Linked DNA regions of Homo sapiens. The protein of the gene in region 3 purifies or fractionates together with the protein of the main gene of each other region. This does not show direct contact. Each region holds a gene or a part of one and is shown on either strand. Other genes may lie near its edges.

Evidence for each region.
Region 1: the proteins of SETSIP (region 3) and ARMC9 purify together in Homo sapiens (co-immunoprecipitation; one large-scale study listed by IntAct). This does not show direct contact.
Region 2: the proteins of SETSIP (region 3) and ZNF90 purify together in Homo sapiens (co-immunoprecipitation; one large-scale study listed by IntAct). This does not show direct contact.
Region 4: the proteins of SETSIP (region 3) and ZNF627 purify together in Homo sapiens (co-immunoprecipitation; one large-scale study listed by IntAct). This does not show direct contact.

Annotation. Positions count from the first base shown.
Region 1 is NC_000002.12:231,368,633-231,373,886, forward strand, and holds part of ARMC9 (lisH domain-containing protein ARMC9), read left to right. Parts: intron 1-1,320; coding exon 1,321-1,493; intron 1,494-2,880; coding exon 2,881-2,903; 3' UTR 2,904-5,254. UniProt on the Homo sapiens protein: Involved in ciliogenesis. It is required for appropriate acetylation and polyglutamylation of ciliary microtubules, and regulation of cilium length. Acts as a positive regulator of hedgehog (Hh)signaling.
Region 2 is NC_000019.10:20,117,835-20,122,421, forward strand, and holds the end of ZNF90 (zinc finger protein 90), read left to right. Parts: coding exon 1-1,526; 3' UTR 1,527-3,331; downstream 3,332-4,587. UniProt on the Homo sapiens protein: May be involved in transcriptional regulation.
Region 3 is NC_000001.11:92,072,921-92,077,266, reverse strand, and holds SETSIP (protein SETSIP), read left to right. Parts: upstream 1-1,855; coding exon 1,856-2,734; downstream 2,735-4,346. UniProt on the Homo sapiens protein: Plays a role as a transcriptional activator involved in the early stage of somatic cell reprogramming. Promotes the differentiation of protein-induced pluripotent stem (PiPS) cells into endothelial cells and the formation of vascular-like tubes (in vitro).
Region 4 is NC_000019.10:11,599,485-11,604,738, forward strand, and holds part of ZNF627 (zinc finger protein 627), read left to right. Parts: intron 1-4,725; exon of another isoform or gene 4,726-4,880; intron 4,881-5,254. UniProt on the Homo sapiens protein: May be involved in transcriptional regulation.

The DNA of each region.
Region 1 (5,254 bases), on a different chromosome or scaffold from region 3:
TTTATTTTTTGAGACAGGGTCACACTTTGTTGCCCAAGCTGGAGGGCCCTGGCGTGAACAAAGCTCACTGCAGCCTTGACCTCCCAGGCACAAGTGATCTTCCTGCCTAGCCTCCCAAGTAGCTGGGATTACAGGCACATACCACCATGCCCCGCTAATTTTTTGTATTTTTAGTAGAGATGGGTTTTCACCATGCCGGCCAGGCTGGTCGCGAACTCCTGACCTTGTGATCTGCCCACTTTGGCCTCCCAAAGTGCTGGGATTACAGGCATGAGCCACCGCGCCCGGCCTATTTTTCTAATTATTAAAGTGATATGTTATCAATGTAAAAAAAGGCATATAGAAACAAATCAAACCAAAAGAATCCCACAGTCTCCTCCCAAGTCCTACTTCCCAGAACTATACTTCCATCTAAGGGGTGCTAACAACTGGGCCCAGGATATGTCCTCACTGAATTCTCACAGCTGTTCCTTAGACATTTTACAGGCAGGGAAACTGAGGCTCCCAAGGTGTCAGGGAACTCCCGTGCAATCACCATCTGGAGAGCGGTGGGGCTGGACCCAAGGCTCCATGGCATGGGGATTCTTGCCCATGGGTGCCTGCATTTCCCCACCTTATGCCCATCGTCTCCTTCCTCCTGTGCTTTCTTTTTTTTCTTTTTTTTTATTTTATTTTTTTGAGACAGAGTCTCACTCTGTCACCCAGGCTGGAGTGCAGTGGCGTGATCTTGTCCCACTGCAGCCTCTGCCTCCCAGGTTCAAGCAATTCTCCTGTCTCAGCCTCCTGACTAGCTGGGACTACAGGCATCTGCCACCATGCCTGGGTAATTTTTGTATTTTTAGTAGAGACGGGGGTCTCACCATATTGGTCAGGCTGGTCTCGAACTCCTGACCTCAGGTGATCCGCCCGCCTCGGCCTCCCAAAGTGTTGGATTACAGGCGTGAGCCACCATGCTCAGCCAGTTTCTTTTTTTTTTTTTTTGAGACAGAATTTTGCTCTTGTCGCCCAGGCTGGAGTGCAACAGTGCCGTCTTGGCTCACTGCAACCTCCTCCCAGGTTCAAGCGGTTCTCCTGCCTCAGCCTCCTGAGGAGCTGGAATTACAGGTGCCCGCCACCGCGCCCGGCTAATTTTTGAATTTTTAGTAGTGACGGGGCTTCACCATGTTGGCCAGGCTGGTCTCTAACTCCTGACTTCAGGTGATTTGTCCGCCTTGGCCTCTCAGAGTGCTGGGATTATAGGCGGGAGCCACCACACCCGGCCCCTCCTGTGGTTTCTAATGCTGTAGTAGCTGGGACTCCAGGTTGCACGTTTTGTTCTAGGGAATGTGCATCAGCCTTCACCTGCAAGCCCCGGGCCCCCTGCACTCCAGAGATGCTGGACTGGAACCCACCCAAGGCAAAGGCGTCAGTTCTGGCCCCTCTGTTCTCTTCGTGTGGCCCCCAGCAGGCCAGCCGCCCCGGCTCCACAGCGTCCTCCACAAGGGGCCTGCCGAGTAAGTCAGCCTGGGCCCCACTGGCGTGGGAGCCTGGCCACCCGCCAACCTGCAGGGAAGGGCATTTTGCTGCTATATTTGGCCCCGTGCTCCTGTGTGTACCAGGCCAGGCCAGAAGGGCAGAAGGCCTGCTTCCCTTCCCCACACAACCAGGCCCCAGCAGGTGGCTTCCTTTCCTCCAGGGACCGGTTCTGCATGAATCTTCCTTCCTATTAAATTCCCTTTGGCCTCAGTGACTCAAACTCAAGCTGAGGAGTGAGACCTCCAGGCAGGTCACTGAGAGAGAAGCCCCTCCCCACTTCCCTCTGTGGAGCTCACAGAGTTGGCCCTGAGCTGGCCCTGCTGCCCCGGGGTTGGCCCTGAAACTCGGACCTGCCCTGGTGGGAGGTGGTCCAGCCCCTGGTTCAGCCACTGTGTCCCTGCCTGGCCCAGCCTCGGTCAGGCCACCCCCAGGTCAAACAGAAGCGGGTGTCTGCTCGCAGGCTGGATGGAGGGGCCGCCAGAAGGGCCTGAAGATGGGATGGGCCCAAGGGCCCCCACTCTCTCCCTGGGGCCTCTCTCTCACCCTCTCACCTGAGGCTCACTGTAAGGACCACTTCTTTGTCTTTCTCTGTCCCCTTCCAGCCTCTGCCAATTGATAGCCCCTCCACCTCCACGCCCCAACTGAGCTGAACCTTTCTAGAGGGCTTTACCAAAACACAGGGAAAACAAAAGGACAGAACAAAAGGCCAGGCAGGACGAAAGGAGTCCCGCTTAGGATATGCGCATTTCTTTGGCCGCCCCCAGCCCGCCCCACCCTACTACCTTCCTGGCCAGGCCCTGGGCGCTCTGGTCAGCTGGGGACACGCTGGGTTGGAAGTGGGGGTAATGGCCATGGCTGGGGAGCCAGGTTGGGACCCCTCCCACTTCCCACTGGGAAACACACCCAAAACCCCAGCCCAGCCAGTCGCAGCCCAGGTCAGGCGCAGAGGAGGTGCAGCAAATCCAGGGGAGGCTCGGCCAGGAGGAAGGTGCCACTGGGGCAGGGATCCCCAGTCATAGCAACAGTGACACCAGCAGCTGGTGGCTGGCCTGGCCCCACATCTAGCAGCATAGCGTGGCCACGGTGTGGACAGCTCAGCCAGCCATGGGCGTTGTGTGTCCTGTGGGCTCAACAAACACGTGAGCTGTTGCCAGCAAAGCTGACTGAGTGACCCGCACCAAGCAGCCTGCTTCCTGTGAGGAAAGAGCCGGCCCGCCAGTCGAGCCCAGGCCACAGAACAGGTGACCTGGGAGAGGGAAGGTTCCCTCGCTTCTGAGCCGGCTGAAAGAGGGACTGAGTGGGACAGAGGGGATTCTGTGCGGAGACCACACAGCACTGGCATCTTGCTCTGGCTTTTCTCTCCAGGCAGCCAGTCTCACAGGAAGTAAGGATGTCCCCGGGTGTCCCCATCACGTTGCCGGAGGACCAGCCAGCTTCCCGCTCTCAGCTGGCAGCAGCTGCCGGTGATGGATGTGAAGGGACAGTTGTCCACAAGACTCTGGGAGCTGAGGGGAGGCCGGCTCTCCAGGCAGCACCAGAGCAAGGCCATCGCAGCCCCGCCAGCCGGGTCACTTTCTCCCAGGGCAGAGCCACCAAGGAGGGCTGGGGAGAGCCTGGCATTGCCCTCCTGGAGAGGGGAATTTCCTGCTCACCCTTCACACACAGAGGAGAGGGGTGGCTTTTGCCCGCAGGAGATCTTCTGGCCCCAGAAACAGCAGGTGCTGGATTTGCAGCCCTGGCCCTCCAGGCCCCAACAGGGCGACAGTGTAGGGCCAGCCTGGAGCAGGGCTTTTCCAAGGCTGCTGAAGCCAGCCCTCCTCACTTGGGCTGACTACCAGGACCCAGAAGGAACTCAGGGTGAAGCTCATTTTATTCTCAAGCCTGCGTCTCAGCAGCAAAGTTGGTGTTTTCTTCCTGTGTTAAAATCTGAGAAAGAAGGCCAGGTGCGGTGGCTCACGCCTGTAATTCCAGGACTTTGGAAGGCTGAGGCGGGCAGATCACGAGGTCAGGAGATCGAGACCATCCTGGCTAACGTGGTGAAACCCCGTCTCTACTAAAAAAATACAAAAAAATTAGCCGGGCGTGGTGGCGGGCGCTTGTAGTCCCAGCTACTCTGGAGGCTGAGGCAGGAGAATGGCGTGAACCCGGGAGGCGGAGCTTGCAGTGAGCCGAGATCGTGCCACTGCACTCTAGCCTGGGTGACAGAGCGAGACTCCGTCCCCAAAAAAAAAATTCTGAGAATATGGTGTGTTCCAGCCTCTTCAAAGCTCTGCTCTTCTGCACACGTTTTTTGAAGGCCTTAAAAAGGCCACCAGTGTGACCAGGGAGCACCCTCTGCCTCCCTCCCTGCACTGGGACCATAAACATAAACAGCTCTACCAGCAAAGTGACCCATCCCGCGGGGGAGGCCTGCGCACGCCCCTCACCAGGGCTGTCATCAGAATCCAGTCTTAGGACAGAGGAAGGATGTTTGCCTTCAGGACCAGCAAGTCACAGGTGTCCTGGATGTTACCCAAGCTCTAAAATCAAATAAAACCCATCAGTATTTAGTGGTGTGTGTGTGTGTGTGTGTGTGTGTGTGTGTGTGTGTGTGTGTGTGTGTGTGTGTATGAGTGTATGAAGGGAAATGGAAAGCAGAGAAAAGTCGCGTGCCCTCCCCCAGGCACCTGATCTGCCCACAGACCCTTCAATGGGGACATCTCTGGTCCCAATGGTCGTAAATAAAGGCTAAGCGCTGGATTTTTCCATGGCCCCCTGACTCCTCAGGAGCGCAGGCAGAGGAGGTAAACAGGAGGCCAGGTTACCCATGAGATGACCAGAAGCTCATCCAGGGCCGGGACCCTGGTTCATCTCGTGAATTCTTGGCAGCGGCTCCAGGCTGGGCACATTAGATGCTGTCATGTGACTGGCCTGGTGGCCACCTCTTGGTTCTCTGGAAATGTGTCCACTCTGTGCTCAGGGAAGAAGGCTGCCGTCCTGACCTGTCAGCCACCAGGCCCTCTCTGAACTCCTCACTTGACCCGGAGGCATTGGGAGCAAACACAAAGCTCGCCCCTGGTGTCAGTGGTGCAGACAGAGGAAAAGCAGAGGGTCCGCAAAATGCAACTCCTCCGTGGTGAGACTTTGAAAAGGTGTAGAGTGGTTGCAGACAAACAGCAAAGGAGTGGAATGGAAAAATCTCTCTTGCTCCCCACAAGAAGTCCACTCCCCTACGGATTCCTCAGATGCCACTGGCTGGCACAGCCTTTCCCGCCCTTGGTGTGGGAGCAGCAGAAGTCCAGCGGGGGTGGGAGAATCATCGGGGTCAGGTCAGTGTCTCCCTCGTCTGAAGTCAACCACTACTTTTCCCTCAAGCCTACCAAAGAGCTAAAGTCTGATCTGTAGATGTCTGATGGTTTGAGGAGAAGAAAAGATAGTCTTTTAGAGAAGTGGGGAGTATCCAACTTAGGGTCAAAATACACTGAGATTAGGCCGGGCACAGTGGCTCACACCTGTAATCCCAGTGCTTTGGGAGGCCGAGGCGGATGGATCACTTGAGGCCTCCAGGAGTTCGAGACCAGCCTGGCCAACATGGCGAAACCCCGTCTCTACTAAAATACAAAAAATTAGCTGGATGTGGTGGTGGGTGCCTGTAATCTCAGCTACTCAAGGAGGCTGAGGCACAAGAATAGCTTGAACCGGGAGATGGAAGATGCAGTGAGCCAAGATCACGCCCCTGCACTCCAGCCTGGGCGACAGA
Region 2 (4,587 bases), on a different chromosome or scaffold from region 3:
CCTTCCAAAAAGTGATAGTGACAAGATATGAAAAACGTGAATATGGCAATTTAGAGTTAAAAAAAGGTTGTGAAAGTGTGGATGAGGGTAAAGTACACAAAAGAGGTTATAATGGACTTAACCAATGTTTGACAGCTACCCAGAGCAAAGTATTTCAATGTGATACATATGTGAAAGTCTCTCATATATTTTCAAATTCAAACAGACATAAGATAAGAGATACTGGAAAAAAACCTTTCAAATGTATAGAATGTGGCAAAGCTTTCAACCAGTCCTCAACCCTTGCTACACATAAGAAAATTCATACTGGAGAGATAACCTGCAAATGTGAAGAATGTGGCAAAGCCTTCAACAGGTCCTCACACCTTACTTCACATAAGAGAATTCATACTGGAGAGAAACGGTACAAATGTGAAGATTGTGGCAAAGAATTAAAGTATTCCTCTACCCTTACTGCACATAAGAGAATTCATACTGGAGAGAAACGGTACAAATGTGAAGATTGTGGCAAAGAATTAAAGTATTCCTCTACCCTTACTGCACATAAGAGAATTCATACTGGAGAGAAACCCTACAAGTGTGATAAATGTGGCAGAGCATTTATTTCATCCTCGATCCTTTATGTACATAAGATAAGTCATACTGAAGAGAAACCCTACAAATGTGAAGAATGTGGCAAAGCCTTCAAGCTCTCCTCAATCCTTAGTACACATAAGAGAATCCATACTGGAGAGAAACCCTACAAATGTGAAGAATGTGGCAAAGCCTTCAGGCGCTCCTTAGTCCTTCGTACACATAAGAGAATTCATACTGGAGAGAAACCCTACAAGTGTGATAAATGTGGCAAAGCATTTATTTCATCCTCACTCCTTTATAAACATAAGATAAGTCATAGTGAAAAGAAACCCTACAAATGTGAAGAATGTGGCAAAGCCTTCAAGCGCTCCTCAACACTTACTATACATAAGATAAGTCATACTGAAGAGAAACCCTACAAATGTCAAGAATGTGACAAAGTCTTCAAACGCTCCTCAGCCCTTAGCACACATAAGATAATTCATAGTGGAGAGAAACCCTACAAATGTGAAGAATGTGGCAAAGCCTTCAAGCGCTCCTCAAACCTTACTACACATAAGATAAGTCATACTGAAGAGAAACTCTACAAATGTCAAGAATGTGACAAAGCCTTCAAGTACTCCTCAGCCCTTAGCACACATAAGATAATTCACAGTGGAGAGAATCCCTACAAATGTGAAGAATGTGGCAAAGCCTTCAAGCGCTCCTCAGTCCTTAGTAAACATAAGATAATTCATACTGGAGCGAAACCCTACAAATGTGAAGAATGTGGCAAAGCCTTTAAGCGCTCCTCACAGCTTACTAGTCATAAGATAAGTCATACTGGAGAGAAACCCTACAAATGTGAAGAATGTGGCAAAGCTTTTAACTTGTCCTCAGACCTTAATACACATAAGAGGATTCATATTGGACAGAAAGCCTACATAGTGAAGAACATGGCAAATCTTTGAAATATTCCTCAACCCTTAATAAACATAAGATAATTCATACTGGAGAGAAACCGTATAAATGTGATGACTGTTGGAAAGCCTTTGACCACCCCTCTACTCTTACTAAATATGAGAATTTATATGAAACATAACTCCTACAAAAATAAAGAATGTGACAAATCATTTTAAGGAAGTTCTCAACCCTTACTACACATAATTCATACTGGACGGAAACTCTACAGGTGTGAAAAATGCAGCAAAGCCTATAACAAGTTCTCAATTCTTTTTTTTTTTTTTTAAGAAGGAGTTTCATGCTTCTCACCCAGCCTGGAGTGCAATGGCACGATCTCTGCTCACTGCAACCTCTTCCTCCTGGTTCAAGCCATTAACCTGCTTCAGCCTCCACCACCATGCCCAACTAATTTTTGTATTTTTGGTAGAGACAGGGTTTTGCCATATTTAACAGGCTGGTCTCCAACTGTGATTCACACACCTTGGCCTCCTAAAATGCTGGGATTACAGTCATGAGCATCCATGCCCAGCCACAAGTTCTCAGTTCTTAAGAGACATGGTGATAATTCATGCTGAAGAGGAACTTTACAAACTTGAAAGATGTGACAGTGCTTTTACCACCACCTCCAACTTTTCTGTACATAAAGATGATTATACTAGTGTGAAACCCTAGAAATAATAGAAAATTTGACAAATCCTTTATATGGTTGCAAGACTTGATTGTAGGTAAGATAATTCATACTGGCAAAACTCCTACAAGTGTGAAGAATGTGGGAAAACTTTTTAATCAGTGCATACACCTTATTTCACAGGAAAGCTAGTATCCTTGAGAAAAATTGCACAATTATAAAAAATATGGAAAACCCATTAATGCCTACTCACATCTTACCCAACAGAAGGTGGTTCACAGTTAATGAAAGCATTTAAAGTGCAATTATGCTCAAGAAATCTTTCAGAAAATAGAAGCCTTTAAAGTGAAGAAGAGTATTCTGAAGACAACCATTACACATATAAAGGGGGTTGTATTACCTTTACTTGCATCACAGATTTCATTGCACACATTTTGTACTAGAGGAAAACCCTGAAGCAGTTGCTCCAGCTTTGTTCAACAACAGGGAATTTATGTTAGAGAAGAATCCTGCAAATGTAGTGAATTTGGAAACAAATTTTTTTTCAAAAACTACAGCTTAGAAAACACCAGAGAGTTGATACTAAAATATATGTTTGCAGAAACAGTAAATATAAAAAATATTTAATTCAAAATGAATTCCATGTAAATATCAGAGAATTTACAGTAGAATAAGGCACTGATACTTCAGACATTACACTAAAACAGTGTTGAGTATAAAAAAGAATCCACAACAAAAATTGTTAGATAAATTATATATAGCTTTAAAAGGTTTTTTGAAGCATTGTAATTACATTGAAAGTATACTTGCTTTCTTGAGAAAAAATTTTTGAAAAGTGAATAAGGTAATAGAGCTTTCAAATTTATGCTGTTACTTTATTTCTATTCACATGTGAAAGCATGTGATCAATTGATGCTGCATCAGAGATATTACAGATTCTTTATTGGGCATTCCTTATAACCTTTTCTATTAAAGAGAAAGGATATTAAAATGTAAGATGCATGATGAAAATATAAGTGGACAGGCTGTTCGTATTTGACCTATATTAAGTAATGTATAAGGTAGTGTTCAGAGTAATACTTTTCTACATTATAGTGAGAGAAATTATGAATTACAGTTAAAGGTATATTAAATTACTGTATTATTTTACTAATTTTATGTAATAAAATACACTACATTAAAAAATTGTTAGATTGTGTGTGAAGTTAATTTTGTTGTATCCATTTATTTTTTTTTTTGAGATGGAGTCCACTTTCTCATCCAGGCTGGAGTGCAGCAGCGCAATCTCTGTGTGATCATTGCAACCTTCACCTCCCAAGTTCAAGCGATTCTCCTGCCTCAGTCTCCCAAGTAGCAAGGACTACAGGTGTGTGCCACCATGCCCGGCTAATTGTTTCACCATATCAGTCGGGCTAGTTTCGACCTCTTGAGCTCAAGTGATCCACCTGCCCCGGCTTCCCAAAGTGCTGAGATTGGCCTAGTTTTATTTTATTTTTTACCATATTAAGACTATTTTGCATTTAATGAAGCCATATTATGCCACTAACTTTAACCTATCCCACCTTACTCAAGGGTATAGTTACAAGATGGTAGCAGTATACTATTTGGTATATAGTAGAATAACATCATTAGTAATCACTTTGCCAGTGGCTTTAAATTAATTGAGTTGAAGAATATTTTTCCCATAGGTTAAATTTTTATTCTTACAGAAATTTATTCTTAGTATTTGTGGGTATATAGTATGTGTTTACGTTTATGCTTTATATGGCATACTGTGATTCAGGACTACAATATGTAGTAATTACATTAGGGTAAATAAGGTATCCATCACGTCTAGCATTTATCCTTTGTATTACAGTGTAATTATACACTTTTAGTTATTTGAAAATGTACAATTAAATTTTAATTGACTACAGGGTTATTTTTATGGTCGTAATAAAAATTATACAGAAATATAAAAAGAATATGGCCAGATGAAGTGGCTCATGCCTGTAATCCCAACCATTTGGGAGGCTGAGGCAGCTGGATTGCCTGACGTCAAGATTTCAAGACCAGCCTGGCCAACATGGGGAACCCCTGTCTCTAAAAATATAAAAATTAGCCAGGCATAGGAGCACCTGCGTGGAGGCTGAAGCAGGAGAATAGCTTGAACAAGGGAGGTGGAGTTTACAGTGATCCGAGATTGCACCACTGCATTCCAGCCTAGGCAACATTTCTGAGTCCTGAAAAATTATTAATAAATATTTGTTACATAGTTTTCTATAAACTTGTGGTTTCTCTGCCTGCAAACACAAGAGTTTTAGTTTTAATTTTCATAGAGTGAAATATCCACATATTACTCTGAAGGTAAACCTTAGGTGTAAGAAAAATATAAAGTGAGTAAGTGTATTTGTGAGTTTGCTTTGGTACATATTTTCAGAAGAAAAGCACAATTATTGAAA
Region 3 (4,346 bases):
CTTAAAAAACAAAACATGGCTGGGCATGGTAGCTCATGCCTGTAATTCCAACACTGGGAGGTTGAGGTGGGAGGATTGCTTGAAGCCAGGAGTTCGAGGCTGCAGTAAGTTATGATCACATCGCAGCACTGCACTACTTAGCCTGGGCAATAGAACAAGACTGTCTCTAAAAAAAAAAAAACAAAAAAACTTGTCATTGATGCTTCACATTCTACCATTAGATAATTTAACTTAAAGCATTATTTTTATTTTAATTCATCTCTATAGTCATTTATCCCTTAATGTGAGTGAGGTTTTCAGATGTTCTTCCTGAAATAATTTTTGATCAGGAGGAAAAGAGAGTTTAAGGAACTAGCGGTGGGAGCTGTGAAGGTAAACGTGGCTAAACTCCTAATTTGGTTTAGGGTCATCTTTAACTGTGATCTTAATGTGAGAAAAGTAAATTTAGGTAAAATTGCCTTGGAAGGAAAAACTTCTTTCAAGAACTCTAATCTCATGAAAGCAAACCCATTTTTGATGCATTATTTCTCCCTCTTTAAAAATGTTTAGGCTGAGCTTGGTGGCTCACACCAGTAATCCCAACATTTTGGGAGTCTGAGGTGGGAGGATTGCTTGAGCCCAGGAGTTCAAGAACAGCCTAGGCAGCATAGCAAGGCCTCGTCTCTACTTACTTACTTACTAAATAAATAAATAAATAAATAAATAAATAAATAAATAAATAAATAAAATTAAAGCCAGGTGTGGTGGCACATGCCTGTAGTCCTCGCTACTCAGGAGGCTGAGGTGGAAGGATCGCCTAAACCAGGGGTTAGAGGCTGCAGTGAGCCGTGATCGTGCCACTGCACTTCAGCCTGAGTGACAGAGTGAGACCCTGTTTCAAAACAAAAAATGAAAGTTTTAATATGAAAAATTTCAAATCCCAGCTACTCGAGGTTGAGGCAGGAGAATTGCTTGAACCTGGCAGGCAGAGTTTGCAGTGAGCCGAGATGGCGCCACTGCACTTGAGTCTGGGCGACAGAGGGAGACTCCATCTCAATAAATTTTTTTAAAAAAGCAAAAAGCTTTTCAGAGAGAGCAAGAGAGCTTGTTATGTTTTCCAGGCTGACCTTGAACTCCTGGGCTCAAGTGATCTTCCTGTCTCAACCTCCTGAGTAGTTGGAACTATAGGCATGTGCCACCATGCCCAGCTGAGTGGTGTTTTTTTGTGTTTGTTTTTGTTTTTTGTTTTTAAGAACTATATATAAAAATTCGCTGACCATGGTGGTTCACACCTGTAATCCCAGCACTTTGGAAGGCCAAGGTGGGCAGATCACCTGAGGTCCGGAGTTCGAGACCTGCCTGGCCAACATGGTGAAACTCTGTCTCTTCTGAAAATACAAAATTAGCTGGGCGTGGTGGTGCAGGCCTGTAATCCTAGCTACTCGGGAGGCTGAGGCAGGAGAATTGCTTGAACCTGGGAGGTGGAGGTCGCAGTGAGCCGATTATCAACCTACTGCACTCTAGCCTGGGTGACAAGAGTGAAACTGCATCTCAAAAAAAAAGAAAAAAGAACTATATATAAAAATTTAATGGATAAGACAGCTAAATATAAAAAGTGAAACTACATACTACTAGAAATAAAGTGGGTAAATTCCTTTATTACCTTGGAAAAAAGAATGCATGTGTATATGTATGTGTGTATTCCATATATTCCATGTACTCAGATGACCCCTTCTTAAACATAAGGTAACATGCATACTATATTTAGTATTCTGCATCTTATTTTTCCTCATTTAACAGTACATCCTACAGTGTTCTGCCTGCTTCCAGACGAGCAAGGAGACTCATGGTCTGGTTCTTGGACTTCCCTAACAGCATGGCCCCTAAACGCCAGTCTCCACTCCCACTTCAAAAGAAGAAACCAAGACCACCTCCTGCTCTGGGACTGGAGGAGACATCGGCCTCTGCAGGCTTGCCGAAGAAGGGAGAAAAAGAACAGCAAGAAGCAATTGAACACATTGATGAAGTACAAAATGAAATAGACAGACTTAATGAACAAGACAGTGAGGAGATTTTGAAAGTAGAACAGAAATATAACAAACTCCGCCAACCATTTTTTCAGAAGAGGTCAGAATTGATCGCCAAAATCCCAAATTTTGGGGTAACAACATTTGTCAACCATCCACAAGTGTCTTCACTGCTTGGGGAGGAGGACGAAGAGGCACTGCATTATTTGACTAAAGTTGAAGTGACAGAATTTGAAGATATTAAATCAGGTTACAGAATAGATTTTTATTTTGATGAAAATCCTTACTTTGAAAATAAAGTTTTCTCCAAAGAATTTCATCTGAATGAGAGTGGTGATCCATCTTCAAAGTCCACCAAAATCAAATGGAAATCTGGAAAGGATGTGACGAAACGTTCAAGTCAAACGCAGAATAAAGCCAGCAGGAAGAGGCAGCATGAGGAACCAGAGAGCTTCTTTACCTGGTTTACTGATCATTCTGATGCAGGTGCTGATGAGTTAGAAGAGGTCATCAAAGATGATATTTGGCCAAACCCATTACAGTATTACTTGGTTCCTGATATGGATGATGAAGAAGGAGGAGAAGATGATGATGATGATGATGATGATGGTGATGAAGGGGAGGAAGAATTAGAAGATATTGATGAAGGGGATGAGGATGAAGGTGAAGAAGATGAAGATGATGATGAAGGGGAGGAAGGAGAGGAGGATGAAGGAGAAGATGACTAATAGAACACTGATGGACTCCAACCTTCCTTTTTTAAAATTTTCTCCAGCCCTGGGAGCAAGTTGCAGTCTTTTTTTTTTTCTCTTGTGCTCAGTCACCCTGTTCTTCAGCTCTCTTTTCTCTACTCCATGGTTCTCAACTTATTTGGGGGGAAATACCTTGAGCAGAATACAATGGGAAAAGAGTCTCTACCCTTTTCTGTTCGAAGTTCATTTTTATCCCTTCCTGTCTGAACAAAAACTGTATGGAATCAACACCACCGAGCTCTGTGGGGAAAAAGAAAAACCTGCTCCCTTCGCTCTGCTGGAAGCTGGAGGATGCTAGGCCCCTGTATAGTAGTGCATAGAATTCTAGCTTTTTTCCTCCTTTCTCTGTATATTGGGTTCAGAGAGTACACTGTGTCTCTATGTAGGTCAAAGGGACAATATGGACAGTTAGCATTTACCAACACATATCTGTCTACTTTCTCGTGTTTAAAAAAAGAAAAAAAACTTAAAAAAATGGGGTTATAGAAGGTCAGCAAAGTGTGGATTTGAGATGTTTGGGTGGGTTAAGTGGGCATTTTGACAACATGGCTTCTCCTTTGGCATGTTTAATTGTGATATTTGACAGACATCCTTGCAGTTTAAGATGACACTTTTAAAATAAATTCCCTCCTAATGATGACTTGAGCCCTGCCACTCAATGGGAGAATCAGCAGAACCTGTAGGATCTTATTTGGAATTGACATTCTCTATTGTAATTTTGTTCCTGTTTATTTTTAAATTTTCTTTTTGTTTCGCTGGAAAGGGAAGATGATGCTCAGTTTTAAACATTAAAAGTGTACAAGTTGCTTTGTTACAATAAAAGTAAATGTATACACATACACACACACACACAAAAAAACAGTATATCCTAGAGGTTATGCCATACGAATGCAGGTCTTTGTTATTTCTTTTTATTATGACGGCAATTCCACTACATTTCACTCAGCTGCCATTTTAATTTCTTCTTTGAATGATTATTCATATCCTTTGTCCATTTTGCTTTTGGTCTTTTCTCTATTTTTAGATGTTGGAGATATTAGTGTTGTCTGTGATATAATTTGCAAATATATTTTTCCCATTTGTCATTTGTCTTCTGACTTGGCTTGGCTTTTGGTGGGTTTTTTTTTTCCCCTGGTGTTTTTGTTTTAATGTAGTCAAATTTATTCTTTCTTTTTGTTCATTTTTTCTGGACTTTGAGTCATAGGTGGAAAGATTATCCTGACTTCCAGATTGTAAAAGAATTCATACGCTTTCCCCTAATAATGTGTGATTTCACTTTTTATACTTAGCTATTTAATTCATTTGGAATTTATCTTGTTACATGGTATGAAGAAAAGATCCAATTGTATATTTCCTTTTTTTCCAAGTGGCTATCTAGTTATCCCAATACCGTTTATTAAAAGTCAGCTTTTCCCCTTCTCATTTTAGATGCCACTTTTATCGTATGCTAAATTGTTTTGTCCCTTAGTTCTATTTCTGGACTTTCTAGTCTATCACATTGTTCAGGCCATCTATTCATGTGCCAATATCACAGTTTTAATTATAGAGGCTTTATATACATTGCTTTAAAAAAATTTTTACTGGCTGG
Region 4 (5,254 bases), on a different chromosome or scaffold from region 3:
TGCAAGAACTTGAAAAGCAAAATGTACTTCAGGCAGATGGAGGCAAAATGCAGTGTCTCTTGGAAGGGTGGTCACTGAGCCCTTCAGTGAGCAGGTTAGGGGGTGGACGATATCCCAGGTGATAGAATGACCTGACTTAGGCCGGGCGCGGTGGCTCACACCTGTAATCCCAGCACTTTGGGAAGCTGAGGTGGGCGGATCACTTGAGGCCATGAGTTCGAGACCAGCCCGGCCAACATGGCGAAACCCTGTCTCTACTAAAAAATACAAAAATTAGCTGGGTGTGGTGGCAGGTGCCTCTAATCTCAGCTACTGGGGAGGCTGAGGCATGAGAATCGCTTTAACGTGGGAGGCAAAGGTTGCAGTGAACCGAGATCACACCACTGCACCCCAGCCTGGGTGACAGAGCGAGACTCTGTCTCAAAAAAAAAGATGTGAAACTTGAGTCAGACGTACCTCTGTTCCAGGTTAGCGCAGCCCCTTCCTGGGTTTGTCCCCTGCAAAAGATTTGTTCACTTATTGCAGTTTCAGTTTTTTTCTTTTTTAAGTAACTATAAATGTATTTCATCAGTAGACCTTGAAATATAAGACAGTTTTGCAAAGAGGCAAGAAGGAAGTGGATTTCAGAAAACATTAAATATCTAGTCTTATGTTTGTTAAAAATTATTACTTATGGCTGGGCGCGATGGCTCACGCATGTAATCCCAGCACTTTGGGAGGCTGAGGCAGGCAGATCACGAGGTCAGGAGATCGAGACCATCCTGGCTAACACAGTGAAACCCTGTCTCTACTAAAAACACAAAAAATTAGCTGGGCATGGTGGCGGGTGCCTGTAGTGCCAGCTACTTGGGAGGCTGAGGCAGGAGAATGGCATGAACCTGGGAGGCGGAGCTTGCAGTGATCCATGATTGCGCCACTGCACTGCAGCCTGGGCAACAGAGCAAGACTCCATCTCAAAAAAAAAATTATTATTTTTTTCTTTCCCAAAGCAAGTGTAGTAAGTTTCTCAAGTATGTTGTTTTTTTTTGTGGGGGTGGGGTGTGGTGATTTAAAATGGAATTCCAGGGCTTAGTGTTGGGAATACTAAGGAAAAGAGAGAGAGAAAACTCTCTTCTATCATGACTGCAGAAAATGAATACATTTCCACAAGTAAGTGTAGCAAATAAATTGGTGAATTACAGAGATTCACCAAAACATCAATTCCTCTGCTTTGCAGGGTGGCAAACTTGTGACAGTGGATAACTGTTCTCTTCCTGTTATCTAGACATCAGAGTTTAATGCGAAGTCCTAGTAGGACAGGACTTGGTAACTCCTAGAAGTGTTCCAATATGATTTAGTACATGATTTGTTACCATAGAAAGAATAAATAACATGTTTATTGTCTGAAGAGGATGGATACTTTTACTTTTCCTGTTAAGGTATGAAATATAAGTGCCTTACAATTTCCTTCCTTGCTATAAACAGTGAATTTGAGTGATTTTACTGGAATCTTCAAACCCTGGGTATTTTCTCATTGAAAATTAAATGCATAACCTTGACTGGGAAACAGAGACAGCAGACTAGTGACTTGAAACTAAGACCAATCTTGAGCCTTCAAAGAGAGGACATTACAGGCCCAGTGGTTCTTGCTGAGGAGCCTCCCCTGCAGTGTCCCAGCTGCTCACAACTGACTTTGGGTGGAGCCCTTTATAGTGAGAGAAGCTCAGAGCCCTGGAAAGCTGGGGATTCATAGGCAGAGGTGGTTGAGGTGATGCCTTTCTGAGAATGTACTTGCTATTATCTTGGGTCTGTTTGTAGACGTTTCTAATGAAACAAATCTGGATTTAGGTAAGGAGTGATTTATTTTATTTTTATTTATTTATTTTTTTTGTGTGTGACAGGGTCTCACTCTGTCTCCTAGGCTGGAGTGCAGTGGTGCGATCATAGCTCACTGTAGCCTTGATCTCCTGGGCTCAAGGAATTCTCTCACATCAGCCTCCCAAGTACCTAGGACTAAAGGCATGTGCCATGATGCCTGGCTTATATTTTTAAAAAAGTTTTTTTAAGAGAGACAGGACGTTGTTATGTTGCCCAGACTGGTCTCTAACTCCTGGCCTCGAGCAATCCTCCCACCGTAGCCTCCCCAAATTCCAGGATTATGGGGGTGGGGCGGGGAGCACCACCACACCAGACAGGAATGACTATTCTAAAGGATAATCGAAAGGGGAGAAGGCACCAAGTATAAAATCTTCAAGCATCTCAGGCTGGGCGTGGTGGCTCACGTCTGTAATCCATGCACTTTGGGAGGCCGAGGTGGGTGGATCACAATGTTAGGAGTTTGAGACCAGCCTGACCAACATAGTGAAACCCCATCTCTACTAAAAATACAAAAATTAGCCGGGCATGGTGGTGCGTGCCTGTAATCCCAACTACTCGGGAGGCTGAGGCAGGAGAATCGCTTGAACTCAGGAGGCAGAGGTTGCAGTGAGCCGAGATCGCGCCACTGCACTCCAGCCTGGGCGACAGAGTGAGACTCTGTCTCAAAAAAAAAAAAAAAAAAAAAAAAATCTGCAAGCATCTCAGAGTTTATGCAGAAAAGGATTTTCTTTTGTAGGGAGGAGCAAATGATGAGAAAGAAGGTGGGAGGTGGAAGGCAGGATGCAGGGTGCAAAATCCCACCTAGATCCTGAAGGCAGTCTCTTCTTAGGAGGGTCATCAGAGGGGTTGTATATAGGCTCAGGCTGGGGGTGGGTCAAAGTTCAGGGGCTGGAGGAAGAAGAGAAACTTAACCAAAGTTTTGTTAACAGGTACTTTGTTCTGACTGATCACTGAAGACAGAGCTGTTCAGCTAATCAATTGTGAGGAAAATAAAGGGAATTTCTAGTCTGTGTATGGCTTTGTCATAGGTAAAAAAGCAGTGTCATCTAAGTCATAATGAGAAGAGTGTTTCTTTGCGTAACCTGCTCCTGCAGAATACAAAAGACGGGGGAGTTTCTTTAACCATAGCTATTTCCAGGATTACATACCTGCCCAATCTTCTGCCGCCATTTTCCCTTACATCCATCCCTTCCATTTCGCCATTTCTGATTTATATGCAGTTGCTGAGAAGTATGGGTGATCCCTGGGGCTTGTGACTGGCATCTGCAGTGGGGCACTGTTATGGTAATGAGCCCTGAACTTGTGGGGTCCCCGTTAACTCTGGGTAGTGTCAGAATTGATTTGAATGCTTAATTGGTGTTGGAGAATTGGAGATTTGGTTGTGTTCAGCAAACACCACACATTTGGTGTCAGAAATGGTATATGAAAAAAGACACTAGAGATCAGAACCTTCACCTGGCTCTGGGTAAGTGTTCGCTGGTGAGAATTGAGACCCTGGAGGAGGGAGCATTTCCACACTGTGAGGAGAGGAGAGTGGGTTGTGTGAAACACCTGTGGACTCACTACCCAGGTTCATAAATGGGCATTGGGCATTTCTGGTATGTCCTGATCTTGTCTCCCGTCTGTACCCACAGGTGACCAGGTCCTCATTTTTAAAAGGTGGTTCTTCATAGTTTTACCATCTATTTATCATTAGGCTGAATTTTGCTTGGCTCTTCCTCTTTTGAATTTTTAGTAAGTTATTACCATTAATATTATGCCAAAAAGAGTTTTTTTTTGGTTTCTTTGCCTGTTTGTTTCACGCATGCTGGTTTCTGCATTTAGTTTGGGGGTTAGGATTTCAGCAAATGAAAGTTTGGGCAGGGGATGGTGGTGGAATACAAACATTCAGTCTGTTAACAATCCTAACTGTATTTTGTACGACATCTTGGCTATTCTTAGCCTTTTTTTTTTTTTTTTTTGAGATGGAGTCTCACTGTGTAGCCCAGGCTGGAGTGCAGTGGCGCTCTTGGCTCACCGCAACCTCTGCCTCCGGGCTCAAGTGATTCTCCCACCTCAGTCTCCCAACAAGCTAGGACTACAGGTGCACAGTACCACACCAGCTAATTTTTGTATTTTTTTTTTTTGTGGAGGCGGGGTTTTGCCATGCTGTCTAAGCTGGTCTTGAACTCCTGGGCTCAAGCAGTCCACCCAGCTATGCCTCCCAAAGTGTTGGGATTATAGGTGTGAGCCACTACGCCCGGCCTTATTTTTGTCTGTTTTTTGTGGAAGTGATATCATCCTATATGTTATATTGTATGCCATCTGTCTATTTCACATAGCTGTGAATCTTCCATGAAATGGTATTTTATTCACTATTTTACTTAATAAACTTTATTTTTTAGACCGGTTGTAGTTTGACAGAAAAATTGAACAGATAATACTTAGAGTTTCCTTATTCTCCTCCACAGGTGATTGTTTTCCCCTACTTTTCTTTTTTTTTAAGAGACGAAGTCTTGCTCTGTCACCCAGGCTTGAGTGCAGTGGTGCGATCACTGCTCACTGCAGGCTAGACCTCCAGGGCTCAAGTGATCCTGCCGCCTCAGCCTCCCAAGTAGCTGGGACCACAGGTGTGCACCACCACATCTGGCTAATTTTTTTTTTTTTTGGTAGATGGGGGTCTCACTATGTTGTCCAGGCTGATCTCTAACTCCTGGCTCAAGTGATTCTCCCATCCTGGCCTCCCAAAGTACGTAAATATGATATCATATATATCATATAATTGATGAACCAATATATCATATATGATGATGATCAGAATTGGTGAGCCAATATGTTACTAACTAAAGTTTACACTTCATCAAAATTGGTAATTTTTGTTCTTCAAAGGACACCAAGAACTTGAAAAGATAATTCACCAAGTGGAAGAACGACTTGCAAATCCTGTGTCTGGTGGGGCATCTTATCCAGAAGCAGCCTGAGTCTCAGTCCCCTCCATCACACTCCATCAGGGTGGGGGCTGAATTGGCAGCCAGGACTCCCAGGTATCCTGTCCCATCACTGTAGGAGGCAGTCTACCTCCTGGACCTCTCTCTGGGCAGTTGTGCACCTGCAATCCTGGATCTCACCCAGATCATGGGGTGACAACAGGGAGTGGCCATCCAGAGAGAAATCTGAGCCTGGTGTTTTGGGTTTGTGGGTGGGAGGTACTCTCAGGACACCCTCCCCCTCCATGGATTCAGACTTGGGTGGGCCCAGCAGAATGGCATGTGTGGTTCCCAGCTCCTTCATCCCCAGTGGGAGGGAGCCTGTCATCCCCTATGCATTTCAGATAAATGAACCAGGGTCTCAAGTTTACAGCCTTGTTCCCTGTTAAAGAGAGATTGCACTGGAAACTTGTTAAGAATGTCAAGGAAAA